Linked DNA regions of Homo sapiens: regions 2, 3, 4 and 5 are each linked to region 1. Evidence: fine-mapped expression QTL. A gene starts in region 1. Each other region holds a variant in brackets. All regions are shown on one strand. Distances are between the middles of the regions.

What was found.
Region 2: its variant is fine-mapped to the expression of PEX6 in pancreas (GTEx, PIP above 0.99).
Region 3: its variant is fine-mapped to the expression of PEX6 in unexposed skin (GTEx, PIP 0.96).
Region 4: its variant is fine-mapped to the expression of PEX6 in whole blood (TOPMed, PIP 0.92).
Region 5: its variant is fine-mapped to the expression of PEX6 in whole blood (TOPMed, PIP above 0.99).

The regions. Positions count from the first base shown.
Region 1 is chr6:42,976,378-42,982,450 of GRCh38, forward strand. PEX6 (peroxisomal biogenesis factor 6) reads right to left here and starts at 2,804. Exons shown (of 17, transcript NM_000287.4): 1 at 1,892-2,804. The coding sequence starts at 2,773. LOC124900215 (a long non-coding RNA gene) reads right to left here. Exons shown (of 2, transcript XR_007059580.1): 2 at 4,165-4,466. RefSeq lists enhancers at 2,064-3,005, 3,166-3,215 and silencers at 2,376-2,755, 3,410-3,606, 4,845-5,063.
Region 2 is chr6:42,936,521-42,942,593 of GRCh38, forward strand. It overlaps CNPY3 (canopy FGF signaling regulator 3), which reads left to right. Exons shown (of 6, transcript NM_006586.5): 4 at 1,197-1,319; 5 at 1,570-1,687; 6 at 2,048-2,774. The coding sequence ends at 2,271. All of the region lies in intron 1 of CNPY3-GNMT (CNPY3-GNMT readthrough), which reads left to right. It overlaps LINC02976 (long intergenic non-protein coding RNA 2976), which reads left to right and starts at 3,973. Exons shown (of 5, transcript NR_186646.1): 1 at 3,973-4,086; 2 at 4,253-4,409; 3 at 4,990-5,095. RefSeq lists an enhancer at 2,084-2,586. The variant C/T (reference allele first, on the strand shown) is at 3,069.
Region 3 is chr6:43,036,760-43,042,832 of GRCh38, forward strand. CUL7 (cullin 7) reads right to left here. Exons shown (of 26, transcript NM_014780.5): 19 at 6,043-6,073; 20 at 4,156-4,316; 21 at 3,771-3,987; 22 at 3,397-3,667; 23 at 2,083-2,228; 24 at 1,807-1,933; 25 at 1,508-1,713; 26 at 858-1,252. The coding sequence ends at 929. LOC124901318 (a long non-coding RNA gene) reads left to right here and starts at 4,277. Exons shown (of 2, transcript XR_007059581.1): 1 at 4,277-4,365. The variant C/T (reference allele first, on the strand shown) is at 3,801.
Region 4 is chr6:42,997,078-43,003,150 of GRCh38, forward strand. All of the region lies in intron 2 of PPP2R5D (protein phosphatase 2 regulatory subunit B'delta), which reads left to right. Among named protein-coding and RNA genes, the nearest start is that of MEA1, 14 kb to the right of the region's middle. The variant G/T (reference allele first, on the strand shown) is at 2,924.
Region 5 is chr6:42,948,094-42,954,166 of GRCh38, forward strand. The region is part of intron 1 of CNPY3-GNMT (CNPY3-GNMT readthrough); the gene reads left to right. It overlaps LINC02976 (long intergenic non-protein coding RNA 2976), which reads left to right. Exons shown (of 5, transcript NR_186646.1): 5 at 1-267. Among named protein-coding and RNA genes, the nearest start is that of GNMT, 9.6 kb to the right of the region's middle. The variant A/G (reference allele first, on the strand shown) is at 3,412.

The DNA.
Region 1 (6,073 bases):
TTTGAGACAGAATCTTGCTCTGTCACCCAGGTTGGAGTGCAGTGGTGTGATCTGGGTTCACTGCAACTGCCACCTCCCAGGTTCAAGCGATTCTCCTGCTTCAGCCTCCCCAGTTGTTGGGTTTACTGGTGTGCACCACCATACTGGGCTGATTTTTGTATTTTTAGTAGAGATGAGGTTTCACCATGTAGGCCAGGCTGGTCTCGAACTCCTGACCTCAAGTGATCTGCCTGGCTCAGCCTCCCAAAGTGCTGGGATTACAGGCATGAGCCACTGCGCCTGGCCTTTTTTTTTTTTACACAATGAAGGTTTATTTTTTTGTCACTCTTATGTCTGTTATGGCGAACTGGTGAGTCTTTACTCAGTAACCCATGGAAATGGAACAACTATTATCTGTTCTACAACTTTCTTCTTGAAGTAAAGGCAGAAACCAAAAACTTTCCTTGGATGTATTTAATAAAATATTAAAACTAAACACCAGGCACCAAAGATAATAAAGACTCCTTTCCTTCAAGGTATTTACAATATATAATTGGGGATTAAACAGATTATGTAATCATAACAAGATAGAATAAAATAAATGCCATAAAAAAGATAGAAAATGCTATAGGAGGAAGTTCTAAATTCGTGGCTGTGAGATCATGAAAGGCTTTGTGATAAAGGTGTCATCTTTAGATGGCTCTTGAGGGAAAGGAGGGTAGGATTTTAACAGATGAGGCTAGAATAATAGGAAACAATTTGAAGTCAAGGATAAGAATGAGCAAAAGCACAGAGACATCATCCTCCATATTATAAAGCACAATACTGAATACATTGTAGCAATTCAATAAACTAATTAGATTGAGTAGATTAACATACACATCTGAAACCTCACTTTTTTTTTTTTTTTTTTTTACACAGAATTTCGCTCTGTCGTCCAGGCTGGAGTGCAGTGGTGTGATCTGGGCTCACTGCAACCTCCACCTCCCAGGTTCAAACAATTCTCCTGCCTCAGCCTCCCAAGTAGCTGGGATTACAGGCATGCACCACCACACCCAAACTTCACCTTTCACCTGAATGGATGAAAGCCTTTTGTATGCCCCACTACATTATGGAGGCTTATGATATTTTGATTACAGAATATGGATCAATAGGCCGGGTGAGGTGGCTCACGCCTGTAATCCCAACACTTTGGGTGGATCACCTGAGGTCAGGAGTTCGAGACCAGCCTGACCAATACGGTGAAACCCCGTCTCTACTAAAAATTACAAAAATTAGCCGGGCGTCGTGGCGCGAGCCAGTAGTAGGAGGCTGAGACAGGAGAATCGCTTGAACCTGGGAGGCGGAGGTTGCAGTAAGCCGAGATCGCATCACCACATTCCAGCCTGGGTGACAGAGCAAGACCCCATCTCAAAAAAAAAAAAAAAAAAAAAAAAAGGAAAGAAAGAAAAAGAAAATAGATAAATGAGGCTAAGAAACATTATGCTTTTTTTTTTTTTTTTTTGAGACAGAGTTTCACTCTTATCGCCCAGGCTGGAGTCCAATGGCGCGATCTTGGCTCACCGCAACCTCCGCCTCCCAGGTTCAAGCGATTCTCCTGCTTCAGCCTCCCAAGTAGCTGGGATTAGAGGCATGCACCACCACGCCCGGCTAATTTTACATTTTTTTAGTAGAGACGGGGTTTCTCCATGTTGGTCAGGCTGGTCTCGAACTCCCGACCCCAAGTGATCCGCTCGCCTCGGCCTCCCAAAGTGCTGGGATTACAGGCGTGAGTCACCGCGCCCGGCTAGAAACATTATGTTCAAAGTCCGGGATGATATGGGGCACGAGTCCTAAATCTTCCAATTTACCTAAGACAGAGAAGAGGGTATAAGAAAGAGGAAGCACTCCTGACCCCAGTCCTTTATCCTACCTGAATTCTGAGCTCTCCCATTTCCAGGGGGTCACAGCCAAGATTAAAAGCCAAAGTGGCAGGGACAAGCGCCAGTCCGTCAGCGAGGGGCTCTCCCAGCGGTCCAGAGCCGGGTCCCAGTCTATCAGAGAGGTCCCAGCGAGGTTCTAGGACCTGCACCCTAGCCAAGTGCGGCTGTGAAGTGTTCGATGACTCTCTGGCCTGGGCCACCCACACCCATTCGCCCTGGAAGAGGCCAAGGCCACGGAGACAGCTCCGGCTCACCCCTAGTGAATCTCCAGTCCCTCCCAGAACTCCCTGGAGTCGCCGCACTGTGCCAGAAACCGCAAAGGAGGACACCACGGGCGGGGGTGGGGGCCGACTGCTGTCCCCAGACTCTGGACACAGTCTGGCCCGCCCGCGGAGCTCAGTCACAGCCAGCCGAGTCCCTGGGCCCAGCAGCCCTTGCAACGCCGGCCGCGTCTCCAGCACCCGCGGTCCGGGCACTGGGAGGGTCTCTCCGCGCCTCACCAGCAGCGGCCCGACTCGCGGTCCGAGCCCAGGCCCCAGCGAGGTGCCAAGCAGTGCCCAACCTAGCGCCGGGGGCCGCCGCACCGCCCGCGCCCGCACCCAGGCCCCGGAGCCCAGTGCCAGGAGCCGCAGCAGCGCGCGGCTAACCAGTAGCTGCGGCGGCCCGGGACCCTGCTCTTCGGTGCCCGCGTCCGGCCCCTCCAGGGCTGCCACCAGCAGCGCCGGCCCTGCCGGGCTCTCCCCTGCAGGCCTCAGGGCCAGCACCAGGCCCAGCTCCGCCGCCGGCCACGGGCCCCCGGGTGGCAGCAGCACTGCCAACGGGGGTGTCTCGGTCGGAAAGGGCTCCAGGACCCGCAAGACAGCCAGCGCCATGGTGACAGGACACCAACGAGGAGGGTGAAGGAGCGCAGCTTCCGGAGCCAGAGAGCCAGACGACTAGTGTGCGCGAGGGCCGCTTCCGCTTCCGTCAGGGGAGGCCAGAGGAAAAGGGGAGGGGGGTCGGGTGCCGCGAACTTGCTCTGAGGGGGTTAGCTGCGCCTCGGATTGATCTGCGTCGTGCCTCGATAGGCAGTAACCTTCATCGCTGCGGTTGCGTAGCGTTTACCCATGCGCCATTTGAACTTGTGCTTAAGGGATTTATCTTTGCCTTCTACGGAAGTAATGTTCTCTTAACTATTTTTCCCCGTGGCATGAACGTAACAGTTTATTGACTGATAAATGAACAGTCAGCATGCTCGGGATGACTGGGCCCAGTACTGGGAGCTCTAGGTGAAATGTTTCGGAAGGAGTCCGCTCCTCTGCGGAGCTCCTGCAGCTTCCCCTGTGGAACTGTGAGCACTGAGGTTTGAGGGTTGCAGGAAAGGTTGCAGGAGGGAGTAGCAGGATTAGAAAACTGTCTCACACTTGCTTATAGGTATATAGTGGCTGCTGAGTGAATTACTAGATGTGATTCATACAGCCCTGGAGTGCTTGGTGCCACCACACATGTTCCAGCACATCTGGCACAAAACCCATGTTCCAGGACTTCTTGCCCTGTTCATTGTTCTGTTTGTTTTACTCCCACCAAACTTAAGTTGAAGACAAAACAGCTTTTCTTTCACCCCCCCCCCCCAAATCCTTGCAGATCGGAAACCCATTCACTTTCTATCCTAGAGCGGGGCAGGCAGCAGAGCAGGCAGAAGGAAAGGAGTTCAAGGCTTCTGTCAGCATAACACCAACAGTCGACTTCCTGCGTGTGCTGTTATTTAGATTCCATCCTTCTCTTCACCTCCACTGTTCTGTACAAGACACTCAGCTAGTGGTAGGCCACATTTCCTTTTTTATGGCAACAGGGTCCTACTCTGTCACCCAGGTTGGAGTACAGTGGCACGATCCCCATTCATTGCAGCTTCTACCGTCCCAGGCTCAAGTGATCTCCCACCTCAGCCTCCCGAGTAACTGTAGCCGGGACCACAGGCACACGCCACCATACCCAGCCAATTTTTTTTTTGAGACGGAGTTTCGGTCTTGTTGCCCAGGCCAGAGTGCAATGGCACGATCTCAGCTCACTGCAATCTCCGCTTCCCAGGTTCAAAGAATCTCCTGCCCCAGCCTCCCAAGTAGCTGAGATTACAGGTGTGTGCCACCACACCCAGCTAATGTTGTATTTTCAGTAGAGACGGGGTTTCACCCTGTTGGTCAGGCTGGTCTCGAACTCCTGGCTTCAAGTGAGCCACCTGCTTACGCCTCCCAAAGTGCTGGGATTACAGGCATGAGCCACTGCGCCTGGACTAATTTTTTATTTTTTGTAGAGACAGAGTTTCTCTGTGTTGCCTAGGCTGGTCTCAAACTCCTGGTCTGAAGAGATCCTCAGGCCTCAGCCTCCCAAAGTGCTGGGACTACAGGCATAAGCCATCATGTCCCACTGCATTTCCAATTATTAACAATTATTTTCACTTACAATAAATGAATTGGATGGTGCCAATCTCCATTTTCTAGACCTTACATTCTCTTTCAGCTACTGCTCAGCTTTCTCCATCTCTCCTTTCTTCTTGAGGCAGTCTTCTATTTTGTACATTATACATTCCTGAAAATTTGAAAGACAAATATATGAAAACTATTAGATTTGCATATTATAAGGGGCTGGGCGCAGTGGCTCATGGCTGTAATCCCAGCACTTTGGGAGGCCAAGTGGGTGGACTGCTTGAGGCCAGGAGTTTGAGACCAGCCTGGCCAACATGGTGAAACCCCGTCTCTACTAAAAATACAAAAATTAGCTGGGTATGGTGGTGTGTGCCTGTAGTCCCAGCTACTCGGGAGGCTGAGGCAGGAGAATGGCGTGAAGCCGGGAGACAGAGCTTGCAGTGAGCCGAGACTGCGCCACTGCACTCCAGCCTGGGTGACAGAGTGAGATTCCGTCTCAAAAAAATAAATAATAGAAAAAAATAAATAAAATAGCATGCAAGAATGTACTAACCAGGAACCATGGCTTGTGTCTATAATCCCAGCTATGGGGAGGCTGAGGCAGAAGGATCACTTGAACCCAGGAATTTGAGGCTATGATTGTGCCACTGCACTCCAAGTGGGTGACAGAGCAAGACCTTGTCTCTTAAAATATATAAAATTAAAAGAAAAAAAAACTAAATAAAGAATGTTCTAGGTACCTAGATTCACATGGATGAAAGTTCCCATTTGGTAGTGCTACTATATGTTTCTTGGTCCCCTATGTCCCAGAGGAACCAAGGGCTAGATAGATGGTACATGGGCCTAAAGAGGATATGCCTGCTTTCCTCAGTAGCAGGCAAGCTCTAGGCCTCAGGACTATAGTGCTCCTTGAGGCCTTGGAGATGGGTAAAAACATCAGTTATCTTGCCTGGATCAGCACTCATACAGACACAAATACCCACCCACAAATAAATGTCCTTTTCTCCCAAGCTTTTCTCCCAGCAGGTAACAGCGGGCATGTAGTCCACTTTGTGTTACCCTGAAATCGTCATTAGTCACCGAAAGCCAAATACTACTTCTGTAAGATCGCCAGGACCCTACATTTGCCATCTTCACTTCCTCACCTCTTGATGCTCACTCTTCCACTCACTAAAAACGGTCTTCCACTCTCTGAAAAAATCACCCATAATCTTCTAATTGCAGAATCAAGATGATGCTGTTCTTTCTCTGACACTACTGACCAATTGTCTTTTATTTCCTTTGCCATTATGACACCAGTTGTCCTCCTACAACTCTGATCACTTCCAGAAATCATCCTCAACTCTTCCCTTTCCGTTACCGTCCCCCCCACAATACAATGAATCACCATATCCTGTTGATTCTACACATTTTCATGCTCCATCCTCTCTTCTCCATCCCCACGGCCACTGTCTTGTAACATTGCTCTCCTGGGTACCTGGGTAAGGGACACAGGTTTTGTGTTTTTTTTTTTTTTTTTCAGATGGAGTCTTGCCCTGTCGCCCAGGCTGGAATGCAATGGTGCGATCTCGGCTCACTGCAAACTCCACCTCCCGGGTTCAATGGATTATCCTGCCTCAGCCTCCTGAGTAGCTGGGATTACAGGCACCCACCGTCATGCCTGGCTAATTTTTGTATTTTTGTAGAGACGGGGTTTTGCCATGTTGGCCAGGCTGGTCCTGAACTCCTGACCTCAGGTGATCCGCCCTCCTCAGTCTCCCAAAGTGCTGG
Region 2 (6,073 bases), 40 kb before region 1:
TTTCAAGGTTTTTGTGTGTTTGTTTGTTTTGGAGACAGAGTCTCACACTCTGTTGCCCAAGCTGGAGCGCAGTGGTGCGATCTCAGTTCATTGCAACCTCCACCTTCCAGATTGAAGCTATTCTCCCACCTCAGCCTCCTGAGTAGCTGGGATTACAGGCACCGACCACCACGCCCGACTAATTTTTGTGTTTTTTAGTAGAAACGGGGTTTCACCATGCTGGCCAGGGGGTCTCGAACTCCTGACCTCAGGTGATCAGCCCACCTTGGCCTCTCAAAGTGCTGGGATTACAGGCATGAGCCACTGCACCCAGCCCTTCAAGGTATAAGTAAAAAGGGCAAGTGCAAAATAGTGTGTATGCTATACCACTGCTTGTGTAAAAAGGCGGGGGGAGGATATATTTAGATATTGGTATTTGTATGAGTTATCTCTGGGAAAATAGAGGAAATGGATAGTATGTTTTCTCTGGGGATAAGACCTAGGCAGCTAGCAGAGATAGTTTTTACAGAATAAAGGGTCTACCTGCCTCAGCTATGCCTTTTTCCCACTGAGGAAAGACACAACCCAGGAAGAACGGAACAGCAGGTCTGGATGATATGGGAGTGTTTCCAGCCATAGTGAGGGGAAAGAGCTAAGACAAACCTATTTCCTGGAAAAGAAGCATAAAGCCAAAGGGCCTGAGGGCAGCCGCAGGTCTTTTTGAAGCGATGAGGTGTGCAGAGGCAGATCAGGGGGTATATGTGCAGGGGTTGTGGGAAGCAGGCCTAAAAGAGGGAAGAGGAAGGTCAGGTCAAGGATGAGGCCAGGTGCGGTGGCTCACGCCTGTAATCTCAGCACTTTGGGAGGCTGAGGTGAGTGGAAAACTTGATGCTAGGAGTTCGAGACCAGCCTGACCAACATGACAAAACCCCAACTCTACAAAAATTAGCCGGGTATGGTGGCACGCCTTTGTAGTCCCAGCTGCTTGGGAGGCTGAAGCAGGAAAATCGCTTGAACCTGGGAGGCAGAGGTTGCAGTGAGCTGAGACGCTCCAACCTGGGCGACAGAGTGAGACTCCTTCTCAAAAAAAAAAGGATGAGGATCCTTAGAGGGCGTTGAGCATTGGTCTTATAGCTGGGTTCTTAGCCACCACTGGGAGACGAGGGTGGGAGGGAGAGAAGGGAGCTCCGCCTGCCATATCTGGTCGCTTCTTCCAGGGCATGTCAGAGACCTTTGAGACATTACACAACCTGGTACACAAAGGGGTCAAGGTGGTGATGGACATCCCCTATGAGCTGTGGAACGAGACTTCTGCAGAGGTGGCTGACCTCAAGAAGCAGGTACAGGCCCTTCAGCCCTTGGAAGGGTTGCTGTGCCCAGTGAGGGGCTGGTGGGGATTGGGTCTGCTCTGAGGAAGTCCACCCAGGCCGGGGTGGCTTTGGTCAGGTCATTTCACCTCTCTGGCCTCAGTTTCCTTAGGTGAACCGCTGCCACTGCCTACCTTGCAGTGGGTTGCGAGGCTTAGCTGAGCTCCTCTAGGAGCGAGTCAGGTGCTGGGGCTTTGCCAATATGAGGTATTATGATTAACAGTGTGATGTGCTGGTGGAAGAGTTTGAGGAGGTGATCGAGGACTGGTACAGGAACCACCAGGAGGAAGACCTGACTGAATTCCTCTGCGCCAACCACGTGCTGAAGGGAAAAGACACCAGTGAGTTTGGGGAAGCAAGGGCAGGCTGGCTCTGGATGATTTGTTTGCTCTCCCTTGGGGGAGGTGGGTAGGAGGAGAAACAGAGGGCACCAGAGGGCATTGTAGGATCTCTGCCCTTGAAAGGCTTGATTGGCAAGACATGGTGAAGTAAGAGTCACTGAAACCAGGTGCAGAATGATGGGCAGACAAGTCAGATGCCCCCAGAGGGGCCTGGTGGCCACAGCGAGAGGCAGGAGGCAGGGAGGCTGATGTCAAGCACAGTCCCAGTTGCTACTCCCACGGCTCCCTGCTCAGTGCTCCTTGCCCAGCACCCCAGCCCTGAGGCACTTCTGTTGAGGGTCTCTCTCCTCCACACCCTAGGTTGCCTGGCAGAGCAGTGGTCCGGCAAGAAGGGAGACACAGCTGCCCTGGGAGGGAAGAAGTCCAAGAAGAAGAGCAGCAGGGCCAAGGCAGCAGGCGGCAGGAGTAGCAGCAGCAAACAAAGGAAGGAGCTGGGTGGCCTTGAGGGAGACCCCAGCCCCGAGGAGGATGAGGGCATCCAGAAGGCATCCCCTCTCACACACAGCCCCCCTGATGAGCTCTGAGCCCACCCAGCATCCTCTGTCCTGAGACCCCTGATTTTGAAGCTGAGGAGTCAGGGGCATGGCTCTGGCAGGCCGGGATGGCCCCGCAGCCTTCAGCCCCTCCTTGCCTTGGCTGTGCCCTCTTCTGCCAAGGAAAGACACAAGCCCCAGGAAGAACTCAGAGCCGTCATGGGTAGCCCACGCCGTCCTTTCCCCTCCCCAAGTGTTTCTCTCCTGACCCAGGGTTCAGGCAGGCCTTGTGGTTTCAGGACTGCAAGGACTCCAGTGTGAACTCAGGAGGGGCAGGTGTCAGAACTGGGCACCAGGACTGGAGCCCCCTCCGGAGACCAAACTCACCATCCCTCAGTCCTCCCCAACAGGGTACTAGGACTGCAGCCCCCTGTAGCTCCTCTCTGCTTACCCCTCCTGTGGACACCTTGCACTCTGCCTGGCCCTTCCCAGAGCCCAAAGAGTAAAAATGTTCTGGTTCTGATTTCTGAGTCCTCTGCAGCCCTCAGAGGTGCCCTGGAGCCTCTTGTTCTTTCCTGCCCCTCGCCTTCCAGCCCGTGGGGCTGAGGAGGGGAAGGCTAAAACCCACCCACTCTCGGGAGCAGCAAGTGCTGGGAAGGCCCAGGGTTGTCTTGGGGTGAGGGGAGGCATGGGCATAGGATGAGGCCCAGGGCAGTGCACTGACCTTACGCTGCTCCCTCGTGTCCTGGACACCTGGCTGCCGTTCCCTCCCTCCCTCTCTCCTGCTGCTCCTCTTCCCAAGGCCTCCCATTTGTTGTGTAAAATGCAGTGTTTACCTGGCCAGCTCC[C/T]GCCCCTGTTCCTACTTCCACCTGGCCTTGACTGTTGGTCCTGAACCTTGTTTTCTGATGACCACACTTGATCACTCTGAGGTTCCTAGCTGTTGTACCTGGAGTGCAGTTGGGAGGACACCCGGTTCCCAACACCATCTGGTCACACCATGTTCCTCAGGGCCAAGGGAGGAGCAGAGAGGCTGGCCTCTAGGGAGAAGGGGTGGGGAAGCTCAGGCACCTCCCAGTTTGTCCTGAAGGCAGGGATCGGGGCAATTGGTACAGTAGTGATGACAATTGTATGTATTCAAATTGTATGCTTTAACTTTTACTATTACCACACTCTTGTGAGGTGTGCTGTTAACCTCATTGTGTAGAGGAGAAAACAGGCTAGAGTCAAGTGATATGCTTGGAGTCAGGTGACCTTGGAGTCAAGGTCCTGCTGTTAAGGAGTGGTATAGCTGGGACGCAGACACTGGCGTTCAGATTACAAATCCATGGTACTTCCACTCTCCACAGCTGCCAGGGCCTCTTCCCCCAACCCCTGGCACTGACAGTGTGAGTTGTATCGAACTGGTTTAGTTTCTTGGCCTTAACCTGTCACCACCACCAAGATTCTTTTTGTTTTGTTTTGTTTTGTTTTGTTTTTTTGAGGCGGAATCTCACTCTGTTGCCCAGGCTGGAGTGCAGTGGTGTGATCTTGGCTCACTGCATCGTCTGCCTCCCGGGTTCAAGCAATTCTCTGCCTTAGCCTCCCGAGTAGCTGGGATTACAGGCACCTGCCACCACGCCCAGCTAATTTTTTTGTATTTGTAGTAGAGACGGGGTTTCACCATCTTGGCCAGGATAGTTTTGAACTCCTGACCTCATGATCCATCTGCCTCGGCTTCCCAAAGTGTTGGGATTACAGGTGGGAGCCACTGCGCCTGGCCTAACCACCACCAAGATTCCTAAAAGGCGAATAGGAAGCAGCTGTGGCTTATTGGAAGGAAAGAATGGCAGCAAGTCCTGGGGGAGCTGTGCCCGCACCAGATCTCCCGTGAGCACCCACACTGCAACTCTACCTCACACTTCCAGGCTAGGCCCAGTGGGTAGGAGGGATACACTGCTGAAGCCTCCCTGCGTCCATTGCAGCGGCTCTGGGGGCTGAACTGGGAGTGAGGGGCCCCCTCATAGCCTGGTCCCAGCCTCTCCCCCTCTACCAGGTTAGGGCAGCCAAGGCCATAGAGAGTGGAACAGAATGGAATCTGTCTCTCCTTAAGCTGTTGAGGATGACGCCAGGTCCTGGGAAAATGATACTGTCTTGGTCCAGCCTCCACCTCTGCATCTCCAGGACTGATGTTCCCCCTGTTAAAGGAGCTGGTGAGCAGTGAGATTACAGTCTAGATGCAGGTCTTGTCCTGGACTTTGTTCTGAGCATAGAAAATGGCTGGGGGTGAGGTGGAGGGGCTGGTACCCAGGGCAGGGATGTGTTTCCTGCCCCCTGAACTGTCTAGGATTTGGTGGCCACCCTCTGATTCCCCCATTCTATCACTAACAGCACTTCAAGGCCTGGCTTACTTCTGTCCCCACAGCTTCATTGATTTTTTTTTTGTTTTTTGTTTTGTTTTGAGTCTTTTTTTTTTTTTTTTTGAGACAGAGTCTCACTCTGTTGCCCAGGCTGGAGTGCAGTGTCACAATCTCAGCTCACTGCAACCTCCGCCTCCTGGGTTCAAGTGATTCTCTGCTTCAGCCTCCCAAGTAGCTGGGATTACAGGCAACCGCCACCACACCCAGCTAATTTTTGTATTTTCAGTAGAGACGGGGTTTCCCCATGTTGGCCAGGCTGTTCTCGAACTCCTGACCTCAAGTGATCCACCTGCCTTGGCCTCCCAAAGTGCTGGGATTACAGGCAGGAACTACCATGCCTAACCCTTTCCCCTACCTTTCTTTTTTGGAACAGGATCTCCCTTTGTCACCCAGGCTGGAGTGCAGTGGCGTGATCATGACTCACTGCAGGCCTCAACCTCTCAGGCTCAAGTGATCCTCCTGAATAGTTGGGACCATAGGTATGCACCACTGTACCTGGCTAATTTAAACATCTTATTTTTTGTATACCAGGTGTGGAGGCTCACACCTGTAATCCTAGCACTTTGGGAGACCAAGGCTGGAGGATCGCTTGAACCCAGGAGTTCGAGACTAGCCTAGGCAACATAGTGAGACCATGTGTCTAAAAAAAGAAAAAATTATTTAAATACTTTTTTATTTGTTTGCAAGAGTCTCACTCTGTCACCCAGGCTGGAGTGCACTGGCACAATCTTGTCTCACTGCAACCTCTTCCTCCTGGGTTCAAGTGATTATCCTGCTTCAGCCTCCCGAGTAGCTGGGATTACAGCCACACACAACCACGTCTGGCTAATTTTTGTATTTTTAATAGAGACGGGGTTTCACCATGATGGCCAGGCTGGTCTCGAACTCCTCACCTCAGATGATTCACCCACCTCGGCCTCTCAGAGTGCTAGGATTATAGGTATGAGCCACTGTACCCGGCCAATAATTTTTTTAATTTTTAATTTATTTTTTGGGCCTGGGGTGGTTTCAGCCTCTTATTTGGGAGGCTGAGGCAGGACAATTGCTTGAAACCAAGAGGCGGAGGTTGCAGTGAGCCGAGATTGCACCACTGCACTCCAGCCTGGGTGACAGAGTGAGACTCCATCCCCCGCAACCAAAAAAAAAAAAAAATTTGTAGCAACAGGGTCTCCACATGTTGGCCAGGCTGGTCTCAAACTCCTGGACTCAAGCAATCCTCCCATCTCGGCCTCCCAAAGTGCTGGGATTACACGTGTGAGCCACCATGCCTGGCCTCATTGATTTTTAAAGTAGGACAAGGTAAAGATCTAACCCCCAAGCCAGGTGTGGTGGCTCACGGCTGTAATCCCGGCACTTTGGGAGGCTGAGATGGGCGGTTCACCTGAGGTCAGCCTGGGCGACAGAGGGAGACTCCATCTCAAAAAAAAATAAAAAAAACTCCTTACTGAGGTGTTGGC
Region 3 (6,073 bases), 60 kb after region 1:
GCGATCCTCCTACCTCAGCTTCCCGAGTAGCTGGGACTAAAGGTGCATATAGCGCCGTGCCCGCAGGGGTAGGAGTTTTTCTTTCTTTCTTTTTTTTTTTCTTGTTCTTCCAAATCCCTCGTTTTGAGAATCAAGGGGTAGGAGTTTGATGACAGCGTGTGCAGCTCTGCAAGGACAGAGAAGGGGTGGAGGCAGAGGAGGGGAAGAAAGGGGCAAAACGGAGGAGCTTGTGGGAGTAAGAACTGTGCTAGAACAGTTCTTTCTGGGCCTATGCCATCAGATGGAATACACATTCAGGTTGCTGGGTGCCTGCAGTGGCCACAGGGGTCAGTGACCTCACCTTCATCATGTCAGTCTTACTTAGGGAAGGCACCAAGGAACCACATTCACTGTTGGCAATGGTGGCCAAAATAGAGACTCACTGGCAATGCCTTCATTCACCACGTCAAATGCTTCCATACCTGTTACTTGTCGCAGTCCCACAGTGACTGGGCCAGTTCCACAAACGAGGAGAATTAAACCCTGCTCGATAATCTGCCCAAGTTACAAACCATCTGGTGAGTGGCCAAGTTGGGCTTGGATCTCCAGCCTGCCAGATGAAAGCACTTCTGACCACACACCCTCTGAGAAGGGGCTGAGTGCCATCATCCTGCCTGGTCCTCTCAATCTCTGCCTAGAGGGGGTGCTAAGTCACACCTGACTCCCTCTGCCTTTCTCCCAGTCTACCATCCTCACCCTAACAAGACCCTTGGCATATCATGCGACAGCCTCAGTGCCAAGGGCTCCTTCTCCACCAGCAAGGAAAACCCTCCCACCTCCCCACTCAAATCTCTAGCAGTCGCCAAACACACACGTCATATAATCAAACTCTTGGGTTTTATTTCTGTAAAAGCTCCAGCTCTACCTTCCCCTGACCCCAAGTCTAGGGCTACCGGAAGGTAGAGAAGCTCTGGGTGGCAGTGCAGGAGGCATAGGGCACACCCCGGGAGCGAATCTGTAGGGTATGGAAGGTGAGGGGTGGGTTGGGGCCTGAGGAGCCTGGGTTCAGGGACTCAGTGTGAGGCTCCATGACAGTCACAGGGACTGCATAGGACAGCACCTGGGGCCGGTCGTCATGGCGTCTCAGCGTGCCCTTGCCCAGGAGGTGTAGGATGCAGGAGAGGACGTCAGTGCTGCTGCATGCAGACCCCTTACCAAGGCTGCTGACCAAACCCCTGGGAGGACACGGGCCCTTCTGCCAAGCCTCCAGCACCTGGTGTGGGGGAGGAAGGGAGAAGCGGTAGTTTAGAGGCAGCTGACCCCTCCTTGCTTGAGCTTCCACTCCAACCACCAGCTGCTAGGACAGGATGCCCCAAGGACACGAGGTACATCCCGACCTCACTCCTCACACTCCTACAGGCTACACAGTGAACCAGGTGCCTCACCACACGTGCACCCACCTTGTCCTGTAGACTGCTCCCCCAACCCCAGCAAAGATCTGTCACCCATTGTGCCCACCCCTGCCTACCAGACAGACAAGCTGGTCAATGTGCAGCCCCTCATCTCCATGGGCCTTGAGGATTCGGACGATGAGGCAGTTCAGAAGATTCCGTCTCTTCTCCAAGTTCTGGCCGTCTTCACCCTCAGCTTGCAGGTACGTCTGAGGTGGGATGAGCCGCACAATGTCCCATCTCGACCTGGGTTCCTTGCTGCCATCTCGAATCTTGAGGACCCCTGAAATAAATGCTGATCACTCACTCAGTGGAGAGCCCACGAGGAGCCTGGCCCTGCCTCAGAGCAGAGGCCCCTCTGGCCCTAAGTGCATACCTCCTGGTATATCCTTTTGCTCGTGAAGGTCCAGGGGGCCTCTTGAAGAGGTGAGGGGCCCAATCGCCTGATTGAGCATGTCTGCGGAGAGCCCTGAGAACGCCAGCAGACTCTCCACAGAGACCGCCTTCAGAGAACAGATGGGAGACATTCAGGGCCTCCCCAAGGAGTGGAGAGAAGAGGATGGAGGGAAGAAGCAGAGGGAGTCAAGGTTTTGGGAAGAGAGGCAAGGGACAAAGTGGGAGACAGGAGAGAGGTGCAGCGGGGCTGGGCCACCTTCAGGTCGTTGAGATACAGCAGTAGCCACATCTGCACGGTGGACACATGCAGGGTCTGGTTCCCAAACTGCAGCTCAGCCCAGCCCAGCCACGTCCACTGCAGTCGCCTCTGTGAGCCTCGCTCAAGGGCAGGGTGGCTCTGACCTGGACCAGGAAGGGGGAGGGAGACAAAGAGCAGGTGAAAGGAGGGAGTTGGTGTTGGAGGGAGGGTGCACGCTGGTCACGCTCTGTTTATCTCTGCAAGGCGTGTGACCCCAGCATTTATGGACACTGGGGCTTCTGGTCTGAGCTTCCAGATCTCAGCCTTCTCTGGGCCTGCCTCTATGGCAAGCCTCAGGATCTGGGAGCTATCCTATGCCTAGCCTGGTGCCAAGCAGGTTCTCATCAGTGCCTTCGAGGATTGCCCCATGTGTTTTTAGGGAGACAAAACCATGAAGGGAGGAAGGACTGGGGCTCTTATCAAGCTGGAATATTATGACAGGAAACAATGTCTCCCCTATTAGGAGGCGCCCTGACCACAGGTCTGAGCCTCTTCCCCCTCCTGTGTTGCTGCCAGCTCAGGGATCAGCCCCCGATGGGGAGTTTAGGATGACAGGTGACTGACCAGAAAAGAGCCAGACACCTACTCATATCTGGTGGCCTCAGGTGCCTCCTGCCTCCATCCTCCCCGTCACCCACAAAGAGATTCCCAGGTCTTATTTTAGAACAGAAAAAGCAATGGTCTGGGGATCAGGTATCTGACAGCACCTGCCACCCCCAGCCACCAAGCTCCTGCCCTTTGTTCTCAAAACCACTGTTTTTCCCATGGCCTAGGGAATTCTTATCCCTAAAGACTATCTCTCCCTGAATCTATAAAAACAAAAATTAAAAATGTAAATTAAAAGACCAACTCTTTTTTTTTTTTTTTTTTTTTTTTGAGATGGAGTCTCGCTGTCGCCCAGGCTAGAGTGCAGTGGCACGATCTCGGCTCACTGCAACATCTGCCTGTGGGTTGAAGTGATTCTCCTGCCTCAGCCTCCCGAGTAGCTGGGACTACAGGCACACACCACCACACCCGGCTAATTTCTGTATTTTTAGCAGAGACGAGGTTTCACCATGTTGGCCAAGGCTGGTCTTGAACTCCTGACCTCAAGTGATCTGCCTGCCTCGGCCTCCCAAAGTGCTGGGATTACAGGCGTGAGCACTGTGCCCAGCCAAAGACTATCTCTTTTTACATCAAGCCTCCCAACATCAGGGTCTGCCCCCAACCCCAGGTCCTTTCCTAGCAGCCCACCCTCTCCCCAGTCCCCAGTCCCTCTGCCTGGCTGCTCACTCTTGTTGTAGAAGTTGGAGTATCTGTTCAAAGTGCCCCTCAGGTAGGAGGGCAGGCAGGTTCTGGGGTTCAGTGTGTGGCAGATTGAGGCAACAGGCCAGGAGTGTCGGGACAGGACAAGCACAGACACTTCTGGCATTGCCCCTTCATAGTAGAGGTCCTCATTCTCCTCCTCTTCCTCCTCTCCCTCCGCCACATCCACCACTGCTGCTGCCCCAGCTTCCTCTTCCTTCTCGCTCTTGTGCTCCTTGCCACTGGCCCCAAGGCCCACCTGAAGGAGCACAGGGTTCCCAGATGCCATGGCCTCCTCCAGTCTGCTCCACGCCCCTCTTCCCCCTACCCTCTTATTTGCTTATCCCTTCCAAGGCACTCACCTGTATTTTCTTCTCTGTATCCTCCAGCTT[C/T]AGGAGTTCCTGATCCAGCTGCTGGAGCTGGTAGACGTGGAACTGGCGCTGCAGCTCCTTAGAGGTGCTCAGGCTCTGCAACATCTGCTGGGGGAGGCGGTTGGGGAAGCAGGGACCGATCTGCTCCAGCACGGCCCCCTCCAGCCAGCTCGAGACCACGCCCAGGAGACGGTCCGCCATGTAGTGCCTGCAGTGCATGCAGCCCGGGCCAAGCCTCAGTGTGGGCACCAGTGTGGCCCAGCCTCCCACTCCAAGGCTCCAGCCTGCCTCTATCCCAGACTTCCAGGCCCATGAGCTGGCTCTGCCACCATCATCCTGCCTCCCGCCAGCTCCCGCTCCTTAGGTCCACACTCACTGGTAATAATGCTCAAAAGTGGTGGCTATCTCCAAGCCGGAGAAAATCAGGACAGCTTGCAGGCATTGCTGCAGCTGTGCCAGCCTCTCCATTTCCTGGGCTCCACCGATCCGGCTGCCCTGGATCTGCTGGTCAATGTGCCGGGCGAACTGCTCACTCACCTGAGCAATGGCAGAGCACAGGAAAGCCATGAATGAGCGAGCAGAGCAGGTGAGTGGGGAGGAGGGATGAGGGTCTGGAAAGTAGATATGAATGCTGGCAGCTTTCTAAGGTGGTTGGTGCTTTCATACAACTATTTTATAAGATCATTAACCATTGTACAAATTAGCAATATTAACAATTATGGAAAGTGTCTTTTCACATTGTGTCTAAAAAATCAAACTAATAATAATCATTCAAAATGAGAAAATAAGACCAGGCGCAGTTCACGCCTGTAATTCCAGCACTTTGGGAGGCTGAGACAGGCAGATGGCTTGAACCCAGGAGTTGGAGACCAGCCTGGGCAACATGGCAAAACCCCATCTCTACTAAAAATACGAAAAAATTAGCTGGGCATGGTGGCACACGCCTATGGTCCCAGCTACCCAGAAGGCTGAGAGGACCACCTGAGCCCAAGAGGTTGAGGCCGCAGTGAGCTGTGACTGCACCACTGCATCCCAGTGTGGGAGGGAGTAAGACCCTGTTAAGAAAGAAGTAAAGAAAGAGAAAGAAAGGGAGAGAAAGAAAAAGAAAGGAGAGGAAAAGAGGGGAGGGAAGGGAAGGGAAAGGAAGGGGAAGGGAAGGGAAGGGGAAGGGAAGGGAAAGGGAAGGGAAGGGAGAGGTGGCTCATGCCTGTAATCCCAACACTTTGGGAGGGTGAGGCGGGCGGATCACGAGGTCAGGAGTTCGAGACCAGCCTGACCAATGTGGTGAAACTCCGTCTCTACTAAAAATACAAAAATTGGCTGGGCGTGGTAGCATGCACCTGTAATCCCAGCTACTTGGGAGGTTGAGGCAGGAGAATCGCTTGAACCTGGGAGGCGGAGGTTGTGGTGAGCTGAGATCGAGCCACTGCACTCCAGCCTGGGCAACAGAGCGAGACTCCGTCTCAAAAAAAAAAAAAAAAAAAAGGAAGAAGAAAGAAAGAGAGAAGGAAAGAAAGAGAAAGAGAGAAAGAGAAGGAGGGAGGGAGGGAGAGAAGGAGGGAGGGAAGGAGGGAAGGAGGGAAGGAAGGAAGGAAGGAAGGCAGGAAGGGAGAAAGAGAGAGAGAAAGAAAGACGGACACAAGGAGGTAAGTTACATACACAAAGATGGTCCTGATGCAGTGTCACTGATAAACTAGGACTGGAGGCTACACAAGGAGCCTCATGTTCCTGCTGCTCTGTACCCTGCTTTCCAGGGTGCTTCTTGCATTTTAGCTCATCAATTGTGGGGGGTTTTTTTGTTTTTTTCTTTTTTTTGAGATGAGTCTAGCTCTGTCACGCAGGCTGGAGTGCAGTGGTGCAATCTCGGCTGACTGCAACTGCAACCTCCACTTCCTGGGTTCAAACGATTCTCCTGCCTCAGCCTCCCAAGTAGCTGGGAATACAGGCATGTGCCACCATGCCTGGCTAATTTTTGTATTTTTAGTAGAGATGGGGTTTGGCCATGTTGGCCAGGCTGGCCTCAAACTCCTGCCCTCAGATGATCTGCCTGCCTCGGCCTCCCAAAGTGCTGGGATTACAGGCATGAGCCACCACACCTGGCCACTATTTATTTTTTTCAATTTTTTAAACTTCTTATAACATGGCTATATACTAACATATGTTCATCATAGAATGGGAATGGAAGGGTGGGTCATTTGGAGGAGGTGAGGAAGGGAGAGTTTGTCGGAAGAGACCCAAGGATGAGGCAAGGGTAGAGGCTTACGTGGGCAGCTTTGAGAAAAGGGAGCTTCAGC
Region 4 (6,073 bases), 21 kb after region 1:
CTCTGCCTCCCGGGTTCAAGTGATTTTTGTGTCTCAGCCTCCTGAGTAGCTGGGATTACAGGCGCCCGCTACCACGCCCGGCTAAATTTTGTATTTTTATTTATTTTATTTATTTTTATTTATTTATTTTTTGAGACGGAGTTTCGCTGTTGTTTCCCAGGCTGGAGTGCAATGGCGTGATCTCAGCTCACTGCAACCTCCGCCTCCCGGACTGAAGTGATTTTCCTCCCTCAGCCTCCTGAGTAGCTGGTATTACAGGCATGCACCACCACATCTGGCTAATTTTGTATTTTTAGTAGAGATGGGGTTTCTCCATGCTGGTCAGGCTTGTCTTGAACTCCTGACCTCAGGTGATCTGCCCACCTCAGCCTCCCAAAGTGCTGGGATTACAGGCGTGGGCCACTGTGCCTGGCCGTTTTTATTTTTATTTTTATTTTATTTTATTTTTTGAGATGGAGTTTCGCTCTTGTTGCCCAGGCTGGAGTACAATGGCGCGATCTCAGCTCACTGCAATATCTACCTCCCGGGTTCAAGCAATTCTCCTGCCTCAACCTCCCAAGTAGCTGAGATTACAGGCGCCCGCCACCATGCCCTGCTAATTTTTGTACTAAAAGTACATTTTGTACTAAAAGCTAATTTTGTATTTTTAGTAGAGACAGGGTTTCACCATGTTGGTTAGGCTGGTCTCCAACTCCTGACCTCAGGCGATCCGCCCACCTCAGCCTCCCAAACTGCTGGGATTATAGGGGTGAGCCACCATGCCCAGCCAACTTCTGTATTTTTAGTAGAGACGGGGTTTTGCCATATTGTCCAGGCTGGTCTCGAACTGTTCTCAAGTGATCTGCTGCCTTGGCCTCCCAAAGTGCTGGGGTTACAGACGTGAGCCGCCATGCCAGGCCCCTATCTCTTTATTTATATTTGAATATTTGGGTTTTATTTATATATATATATATATATATATATATATATATATATATATATTTTTTTTTTTTTTTTTTTTTTTTTTTTTTTTTTTGAGACGGAGTCTCACTCTGTCACCCGGGCTGGAGTGCAGTGGTGTGATGCTGGCTCACTGCAACCTCTGCCTCCCGGGTTCAAGCAATGTTCCTGCCTCAGCCTCTTGAGTAGCTGGGAATACAGGTGCGTGCCACCACGCCCAGCTAATTTTTGTATTTTTAGTAAAGATAGGGTTTCACCATGTTGGTCAGGCTGGTCTCAAACTCCTGATCTCGTGATCTGCCTGCCTCGGCCTCCCAAAGTTCTGGGATTACAGGCATGAGCCACTGTGCCCAGCGTGGGTTTAATTATTAATGATGGCCGTGTTCGGAATAGGCTGGACCAGGATAGGTTCAGAGTAGGCACGTTTAGTTGGAATTTTCTGAGTATGAGTGTCGTGTGGAAATTCACAGTGCCACTTGATTGCTGGAGGCCTGAATCTAGGAAGGCTTCTTGGAGTATGGATCCTGTTGAGAGTTTGGAAGTGAAAGTAGTAGTACTTCAGGCAGAAGAGATGGCCTCTATGGAGTCCCAGAAGTGAGGGCCAGGTATGGTGGCTCACACCTGTAATCCCAGCACTTTGGGAGGCTGAGGCGGGTGGATTGCTTGAGCTCCAGAGTTTGAGACCAGCCTGGGCAACATGGTGAAACCCTGTCTCTACAAAAACTACAGAAAAGTAGGCCAGGCACGGTGGCTCACGCCTGTAATCCCAGCACTTTGGGAGGCTGAGGCAGGCAGATCACTTGAGGTCAGGAGTTCGAGACCAGCCTGGCCAACATGGTGAAACCCCGTCTCTACTGAAAATACAAAAATTAGCCAGGCCTAGTGGTGCACGCCTGTAATCCCAGCTACTCAGGAGGCTCAGGCAGGCGAATCGTTTGAGCCTGGGAGGCAGAGGTTGCAGTGAGCTGAGATTGCACCACTGCACTTCAGCCTGGGTGGCAGAGTGAGACCCTGTCTCAAAATAAATAAATAAATAGAGTCCCGAAGTGAAACTGGGCAGGACAAAGTAGCGAGTAGAGGACAGATTGGCCAAGTTGCCTTTGGTCAGTGTCCACCCCTGCTTTGATGGCTGCAGAAGCTTCTCAGGGGACTCACTTGCCTTCTACCCCCAACCCAGGTGAATGCACAAGTTAGTGGCTGGGGCTTTTAAGAGAAATGGTTGAATGCCCATGAGTAGTTGACATATCCCCCACCTCCCTCTGACATGCATGTTTCCTAGTGAAGGGTGAATAGACAGCGGATACCTCATTGGGGCTTGGCAGCCAGGGGCTTCGCTGGCAGAAACAGCTGTCTCTCAGATGCTTCTTGTGTCTGGATCTTGGGAGCCAATGGTCCTTATAAACCAGGGCAGCTCAGTGGGGTAGGGGGCAGGGCAGACTAAGCCCATTCAGCTGCTCTCCAGCCACTCTAGCCTTCAATAACACAATGCTAGTGTAGAAAAGACCTTAGATATCAGCTCATTGGGTGGTTTTTATTTTGTTTCATTTGTTTTGTTTTGTTTTTTTCTGAGATGGAGTCTTATTCTGTTGCCCAGGCTGGATTGCAGTGGCACGATTTCGGCTCACTGCAACCTCTGTCTCCCAGGTTCAAGTGATTCTCCCACCTCAGCCTCCTGAGTAGCTCGGATTACAGGCCCCCACCATCACGCCTGGCTAATTTTTTGTATTTTTAGTAGAGATAGGGTTTTGCTATGTTGGCCAGGCTGGTCTCCTGACCTCAGGTGATCTGCCCGCCTCGGCCTCCCAAAGAGCTGGGATTGCAGGCATAAGCCACCATGCCTGGCCATTGGTGGAGCATAAGACCCCCTGTTCTCTCTAAACCTTACCGGAATAATCGTTGGGAAACCACTGATCTAGTCCTGCCACCTCTTTTTTTTTGAGATGGAGTCTTGCTCTGTCGCCCATGCTAGAGTGCAGTGGCGTGA[G/T]CTCGGCTCACTGCAACCTCCGCCTCCCAGGTTCAAGCGATTCTCCTGCCTCAGCCTCCGGAATAGCTGGGATTACAGGCGCCCGCCACCACGCCCAGCTAATTTTTGTATTTTTAGTAGAGACGGGGTTTCACCATGTTGGCCAGGCTGGTCTCGAACTCCTGACCTCCTGATCTAGCCACCTTGGCCTGCCAAAGTGCTGGGATTACAGGCGTGAGCCACCACGTCTGGCCACCTTTTTTTTTTTTTTTTTTTGAGATAGAGTCTTGCTCTGAATCCCAAGCTGCAGTGCAGTAGTGTGATTTTGGCTCACTGCATCCTCTGCCTCCTGGGTTCAAGCAATTCTCCCATCTCAGCCTCCTGAGTAGCTGGGGCTACAGGCGTGCACCACCACACCCAGCTAATTGTTTTTTTGCATTTTTAGTAGACTCAGGGTTTCACCATGTTGGTCAGGCTGGTCTTGAACTCCTGACCTCAAGTGATCCACCCGCCTTGGCCTCCAAAAGTGCTAGGATTACAGGCATGAGCCACCGTGCCTGGCTACCTTCTTGTTAGCAGAAAACATTGAGGCCTTCCTTTTCCCTTTCTGGGAAGAATGCCCCTCTCTGGCTGCCTCCTCAGTGTGAGGTGTGTGGAAGTACAGGGTGTCTGCATCTTACCTGGAAGGATGGAGTCTTGTTGTCAGGTTGGCACTGAGCCCCTCACCCTAGTATCACTGATGTTTCTCCTTCAGACTCTGCTCCTAATGCTGTATAGCCCCCTGTTCTGAGGATTCCTGAGTTGGGGCAGGAGAGGAAGAGTCTGTGGGGAGGAGCCTGGGCAGGACCTGAGAGCTTTGGCTCCTGGTCAACCAACCAACCAAACCTTCATTGAATTCCTATTAGGTGTTAGTGCTGGGGGCACCCAGAGGGGTACAAACAGGGTCCTGGCTTTCAAAGGACTTGCCATCTAGTTAGGGGAATGACACATGAAGAGACTAAGAGGTGTCACTAGGGGGTGAGCAGTCACAGCGCCAAGGGAAGAGACAAGTGGTATCAAAAAGAGGGGGTGACACCCAAGGGCTGGAAAGATCTGAGAAGACTTTTTGGAAGAAGGTGGGACTTAAACTGAGTCTTGGAAGATGCAGTGATTTCCTAGGTTCCTGATTTTCTTCCTTTTCTTTTTCTTTTTTGAGACAGAGTTTCACTCTTGTTACCTAGGGTGGAGTGCAATGACATGATCTCAGCTCATTGCCAAGATCAAGCAATTCTCCTGCCTCAGCCTCCCGAGTAGCTGGGATTATAGGCATGCGCCACCTCGCCCGGCTAACTGTATTTTTAGTTGAGTTGGGGTTTCTCCATGTTGGTCAGGCTGGTCTTGAACTCCCAACCTCAGGTGATCCACCTGCCTCGGCCTCCCAAAGTGCTGGGATTGCAGGCATGAGCCACTGTGCCCGGCCAGGATCCCCCATTTTTAAATGAGGATAATGGACTCAACGGAACATTTGAGTTGTGCTAGCATAGGAAGGAGATTCTAGGCTGCATTCCTAAAACCTGGATATGGGAAATAATAGTAATAGTAGTGGTGGTAGTAGAAGGTACCTCTTATAAAATGCTTCTTTAGGGCTGGGCACGGTGGCTCACACCTGTAATCCCAGCACTTTGGGAGGCTGAGGCGGGCGGATCATGAGGTCAGGAGATCGAGATCAGCCTGGCTAACATGGTGAAATTCCGTCTCTACTAAAAATACGACAAAAAATTAGCCGGGCGTGGTGGCACGCACCTGTAATCTCAGCTACTCCGGAGGCTGAGGCAGGAGAATTGCTTGAACCCGGGAGGCAGAGGTTGCAGTGAGCTGAGATTGCGCCACTGCACTCCAGCCGGGTGACAGAGCCAGACTCTGTCTCAAAAAAAAAAAAATGCTTCTTTAGTGCGTGACAGAGCCAGACTCTGTCTCAAAAAAAAAAAAAATGCTTCTTTAGTGCGAGGAACTGTTCATCTCTATCCTTACGATAGTGCTATAAGGTAGGTATGGTTGTCATCCCATTTTGTAGATGAGAAAACTGAGGTGCAGACTTTCTGGATATTACTCAGCTAATAAGTGGCGAGCCAGGATTGAACCCAGGCAGGCAGTCTGGCCCAAGGTGTTATTGAGCACCAAGCTCCACAGATAAGGGTTTGGTTGTTCTTTTTTTTTTTTTTTGATTCGGAGTCTCGCCCTATCACCCAGGCTGGGGTGCAATGGCATGATCTCAGCTCACTGCAACCTCTGCCTCCCGAGTTCAAGAGATTCTCCTGCCCCAGCCTCCCGAGTAGCTGAGATTACAGGCACGTGCCACCACGCCCAGCTAATTTTTTGTATCTTTAGTAGAGGCAGGGTTTCACCATGTTGGCCAGGCTGCTCTCAAACTCCTGACCTCGTGATCCGCCCGCCTCTGCCTCTCAAAGAGTTGGGATTACAGGTGTGAGCCACCGTGCCTGGCCTAGTTGTTCTTAAGGCAGGGAAATGGAGGCCTGAGGCAGAGGAGTGTCTGGATACACACCAAGTGCTGGCCCCCAACCTGCTTTTCTCTTACTACCACTTCCCCCACCCCAAGGTGCAACTCATCTGCCATATGTAGAAAGGGAGACCTCAGACCTCCAGATGCCTTGCCATGTCTAATACACGGGACCCACAGGCTGGACCCGGTGCTCCTCTCCTGTTCTCTCATCCCTAGATAGGTGACAAGTCCACATCATTGTTTTTATAAAAAATTCAGAGGATGCAATTAATAACATTTCTGTCTTCCTTCCCTCCCCCACCCCAGAGGATTTCAAGTTCTTCTATTATTATGGTAAGGAGTAAGAGTTTGGGATGGGAGCTGGAGAGGAGCGGGAGATGGCAGGTATGAGGCCAAGAGGTCACCTTTCCCTTTCCCTGTGGTGAGGGTACCCAGCTGGACATGGCCTCTGCCTAGTCCTATTCTAGACTCTGTTTGGGGGCAAGGGCTGTCCTGTGGTTTAGCTTCTTTCCTCTCCCAACAGGGGGCTGCCTGGACAGTCCAGGAGTACCTGTGGGCAGACAGCCCTGCAAATACCTGTATTTAGACTTCTGAAAATGGACTTCATGGGGCTGTAACACCTGTGTCTGGGAGCTATGCCTTTAAAAAGGGATAGCTTTTAGGCTGGGCAC
Region 5 (6,073 bases), 28 kb before region 1:
GGGTAGATCCAATTAGCAGAGAAGAATTTTTATGCAATGGCTTGGACTAGAGTTTGGAATTTGGCAGTCATCACTGGAAAAATGAATTTCTGCCTGTTCTGAATCAAAACAAAACAAGCCATGTGCAGTACACACCTGTAGTCCCAGCTACTTGGGAAGTGACTTGAGAGGATCACTTGAGCCCAGGAGTTCCAGTCCAGCCTGAGCAACACAGTGAGACCCTCATCTCTAAAAAGCAAATAAAAATAAAAAACACCAAAACAACCAGGATGTCTCCCATTCGCAGTTATTGTATCTACATAATTCACAATTGCAGGATTTTAATGTGTCCTCAAATAGGACTTGGAGTTTGTCCAGTTACAGCCACATTCCCAAGATGAAGTCTTTTTGCAAACATGTCACACATTTAGGAATGAAGAATTTAGTCTTTTCAGCCAATTCCAAATAATGTGTCCCACATTTAAAATATCACCTGTTCTTCTTTTCTTTTCTTTTTTCTTTTTTTGAGATGGAGTCTCACTCTGTTGCCCAGGGAAGTGCAGTGGCGCGATCTTGGCTCACTGCAACCTCCACCTTCCAGGTTCAAGTGATTCTCCTGCCTCAGCTTCCTGAGTAGCTGATTACAGGTGTGTGCCACCACACCCGGCTAATTTTTGTATTTTCAGTAGAGACAGGATTTCACCATGTTGGCCAGGCTGGACCTATTCTTATTTTCAGTGAAGTCAAACAGTAAATTGATTTATATTCTGTGATCTTTTCCATGGCCCAGGGCATCTAAAATTTACAGAGAGATGGCCAGGCATGGTGGTCATGCCTGTAATCCCAGTACTTTGGGAAACCGAGGCAGGTGGATTGCTTGAGCCCAGGAGTTTGAGACCAGCCTGGATAACAAAGTGAGACTGTCTCTACAAAAATAAAATAAAATTTATAGAGACGAATTAAGTAAAATAAAAAGCAGTTTTAATATATTTTAGTGGGCAGGACATGGACAATTTGTAGATGAAGGATTGCAATTATTTGGTATATTTTGGCAATAATTAAAGAAGATATAATAGATATAATTAGATACAATATTCTACCTAATGAAATATCAACGAATAATATGTAAAGAAGAGTTCAAACACGCCGGGTGAGGTGGTTTATGCCTGTAATCCCAGCACTTTGGGAGGCTGAGGCAAGAGGATCACTTGAGCCCAGGAGTTGGAGACAAGCTTGAGTGACACAGACATACCAAAAAAAAAAAATTAGCCAGGCATGGTGGCGCACCCCCATAATGGCAACTACTCAAGAGGCTGAGGTGGGAAGATCGCTTGAGCCTGCAAGTTCGAGGCTGCAGTGAGCTATGATCACACCACTGTGTTCCAGCCTAGGCGACAAAGCAAGACCCTGTTTTAAAAAAAAAAAAATTAAATTTTAAAAAGGAGTGACCCTACTACCTCCTTCAGCATTCCTTTCCCACACAAAGCAAATGGAAAAGAAAGTAATAATAAAGGGAAAAATAATAAACTGCCATAAGCCACTTAACATTTCAAATATTGTATATATAGCCAATCTATTTGTAGACAGTGACAAAGAAATTATTCCCGTATCATCTTGGTTATTATTCCAATCACTCTTCATTCTCCAGACTTTTTTTCTTTTTCTTTTTCTTTTTCTTTTTTTTTTTTTATTTGAGGCAGAGTCTCCCTCAGTCATCCAGGCTGGAGTACAGTGGCACAATCTCGGCTCACTGCAGCCTCTGCCTCCTGGGTTCAAGCGATTCTCCTGCCTCAGCCTCCCAAGTAGTTGGGATTACAGGCGCCTGCCACCACGCCCAGCTAATTTTTGTCTTTTCAATAGAGACAGGGTTTCACCATGTTGGCCAGGCTGGTCTCCAACTCCTGACCTCAAGTGATCTGCCCACCTCGGCCCCCAAAAGTGCTGGGATTACAGGTCTCAGCCACCGCTCCTGACCAAGCATGCATTTTTAAGGCCGGGCAAGGTGGCTCAAGCCTGTAATCCTAGCACTTTGGGAAGCGAGGCAGGCGGATCACGAGGTCAGGAGTTCGAGACCAGCCTGGCCAACATGGTGAAACGCCATCTCTACTGAAAATACAAAAAAATTAGCTGGGTGTGTTGGCGCATGCCTGTAATCCCAGCTACTTAGGAGGCTGAGGCAGGAGAATCACTTGACGGAATCTTACTCTGTCACCCAGGCTGCAGTGCAGTGGCTTGATCTCAGCTCACTGCAACCTCTGCCGCCTCGGTTCAAGTGATTCTTGTGCCACACCCTCCCAAGTAGCTGGGACTACAGCCGCGTGCCACCACGCCCGGCTAATTTTTTTGTATTTTTAGTAGAGATAGGGCTTTGCCATGTTGGCCAGGGTGGTCTGGAACTCTTGACCTCAAGTGATCTGCCCCCCTCGGCCTCCCAAAGTGCTGGGATTACAGGTATGAGCCACCATGCCCAGACAAGATAATTAACATGAGATTAAAAAAAAAAAAAATCTAAGGGTAGTGGAGTAAATTTTCCCCAGAATATTCTGTAAAATAAAGAGTGGATTTACTTATAATTCTCCAATTCAGGCTTTTTTTTTTTTTTTTTAGACAAAGTCTCACTCTGTCACCTAGGCTGGAGTGCGGTGGCACAATCTCAGCTCACTGCAACCTCTGCTTCCCAGGTTCAAGCAAATCTCCCTGCCTTAGCCTTCTGAGTAGCTAGGATTACAGGTGCCTGCTACCACGCCCAGCTAATTTTTGTATTTTTTAGTAGAGATGATGTTTCACCATGTTGGCCAGGCTGGTCTCAAACTCCTGACCTCAGGTGATCCGTCCGCCTCAGCCTCCCAAAATGCTGGGATTACAGGCATAAGCCACCATGCCCGGCCCCAATCCAGGCTTTCTAAACCTGTTGCCAAAGATGCATCTGTAGGATCAGATACAAAAAAATTAGCTGGGTGTGGTGGTGCATGCCTGTAATCCCAGCTACTTGGGAGGCTGAGGCAGGAGAATCGCCTGAACCCAGGAGGTGGAGTTTGCAGTGAGCCAAGATCGTGCCATTGCACTCCAGCCTGGGCAACAAGAGCGAAACTCCATCTCAAAAAAAAATAAAGAATAGCAAGGACACCAAGCACCCCCATTCCCGGCCCTGGACTTTGTCCATGTGTTAATGGTGGAGGGTGTCCAGGTTCTTGGCATCTTGAACGAACAATTGGACAAAATGCACAAACAAGGAAGGAATGAAGGGTTTTATTGAAAATGAGCCGGGCGCGGTGGCTCACGCCTGTAATCCCAGCACTTTGGGAGGCTGAGGCGGGCCGATCACAAGATCAGGAGATTGAGACCATCCTGGCTAACACGGTGAAACCCCATCTCTACTAAAAATACAAAAAAATTAGCCAGGCGTGGTGGTGGGCACCTGTAGTCCCAGCT[A/G]CTTGGGAGACTGAGGCAGAATGGTGTGAACCCAGGAGGTGGAGGTTGCAGTGAGCCAAGATTGCGCCACTGCACTCCAGCCTGGGCGACAGAGCGAGACTCCATCCCAAAAAAAAAAAAAAAAAAAAAGACAATGAAAGTACACTCCACAGTGTGGGAGCGAGAATGAGCATAGGGGCTCAAAGGCCCTGTTAAAAATGTTTGTGAGTTTAAATACCCTCTACTTGGGGAATGCCCTATGTAAATGAAGAAGATGAAGTAAAGTTACAATTGCAAAGTTATTAATGATGTATGCCCTAAGGAGAGGATATTTCCTGTTATAGATGAAGTGTGAATTGGCCTTATGTTACCTGCCTCCAGACCCTATTTTCCTGCCTCATCTGCCCCCTGAGATGTGATCCCCATAAATCTTTATGGGAGGCAGAGGGACAGATGGTCTTTTTTCTGTAACTGCTTCATGCTGGCTTGGGGGATGGTCCCCACCTATTAGGGATCATGGAACTCTCACCCTGCTCTGTCTAGTGGAGGCAGGGTAGCTTTTTGATGGCCAGGGGTGATGTCTTCACCTGGAACTGGCTGGAAGCTTTGTTGCATGATCAGCTGAAGCTTGATGGTCTCTAGGCAAGAGGAAATGAATTTGGTTAAAACATTTAATGGGAACTGCAGGGGGTGGATACCTATGCTGTTAGAAATGTTTGTTATATTGACCAGGCGCAGTGGCTTACGTCTGTAATCCCAGCACTTTGGGAGGCCGAGGCAGGCAGATCACGAGGTCAGGAGTTCAGGATCAGCCTGGCCAACATAGTGAAACCCTGTCTCTACTAAATACAAAAAAATTAGCCGGGCGGGGTGGTGCATGCCTGTAATCCTAGCTACTCAGGAGGCTGAGGCAGGAATGTTGCTTGAACCTGGGAGGTGGAGGTTGCAATAAGCTGAGATTGAGCCACTGCACTCCAGTCTGGGGGCGAGGGAGTGAGACTCCGTCTCAGAAAAAAAAAAAAAGAAAGGTTTGTCATAGAGATTTGCAGGAGAAAAAAAACTTGGTCTGTTTTAGAATCTATGTGTTTCCTTAAAGTCCTAGCATGAGCGACTCCATTTTGGTTTGGTTTGTTGAGGCCTAGTGCATGAGCCTAGTCCAAAACAATGGCCTTCCATAATTTTGTTTAAAAAATTACCCTTTTTGGTTAGGCTGTCATTTAAGTGAGAGTGTGACCAAACCTTAGGGACTTAGCGCCACTCTCAGTTACCATCATTTTGGGTTTCCTATCTCAGCACATCATTTATAGCTTATAGTGTCCTTATGGTTGCACATTTTTTTAGCTCCTGTTATTCCAGTTGAAGAGAGACCATTTGACATTCTAGAGATGGCTGCACGCAAGCATTTAAAACCTTTGAGAGAATAGAGCGCACCAGGGAGACTATTATTATGACTATCGGGAGGATGATACCAAGAGTTTGGAGTATGCTCCTTACCCAGGTTCCCCATAAACCAAACCACCTAAAATCACATAGATCAAAGAATGAACTAGATAAAGAGTTTACTCATGGCCGGGCGTGGTGGCTCATGTCTGTAATCCCAGCACTTTGGGAGGCCGAGATGGGCAGATCACCTGAGGTCGGGAGTTCAAGACCAGCCTGACCAACATGGTGAAACCCCGTCTCTACTAAAAACACAAAATTAGCCAGGCATGGTGGTGCATGCCTGTAGTCCCAGCTACTCGGGAGGCTGAGGCAGGAGAATCGCTTGAACCCGGGAGGCAGAGGTTGCGGTGAGCCGAGATCGTGCCATTGCACTCCAGCCTGGGCAACAAGAGCAAAACTCCGTCTCAAAAAAAAAAAAAAGTTTACTCATTTGACTAAGCAGTCTCTTTGTTAATCCCCTACCACTATATTTCTATAATCTTCATGTGATGTATTTCTCCGTAGGCCACAAGTGCCAGCAGCTGCACAGATACTTCTCTGTTTAGCCAATTCTATCTTAACTTTCACAAGAGAATTTAAAGTCTATTGTATAACTGTAGCCTTTACAGTAGAATTTGCTATAGAACCCATCATGAGGGATACTTTTTTTTTTTTGAGACGAAGTTTCGCTTTTGTTGCCCAGGCTAGAGTGCAATGGCACCATCTTGGCTCACTGCAACCTCTGCCTCCCGGGTTCAAGCGATTCTCATGCCTCAGCCTCCCGAGTAGCTGGGATTACAGGTGCACCACCATGCCCAGCTAATTTTTATGTATATATATATATATATTTTTTTAGTAGAGATGGGGTTTCACCACATTGGCTAGACTGGTCTCAACCTCCTGACTTCAGGTGATCCACCTGCCTCGGCCTCCCAAAGTGCTGGGATTACAGGCATAAGCCACCGTGCCTGGCCCCATTAAAGTTTTTTACCTGCACTGGGCCTTCATTTTTTATCTATTAAAGTATAAAGTTATCCATATATAAGGTTGGCTGCAAACTCCTTCACAAATAAAAGTACATCCCATTAGTGCACATAACAGATGCCTTTTCCACTTTTATTGTTCATAGAGGCATAAGCAAGAACAAATATTGAAAGATAAGAGTTTTATGACAGTAGAAGTCTTAATCTGTGAATTTGGGAAAAGCTTATTTACATCAAAGATGCCATCCTCGGTCAGGCGCAGTGGCTCACGCCTGTGA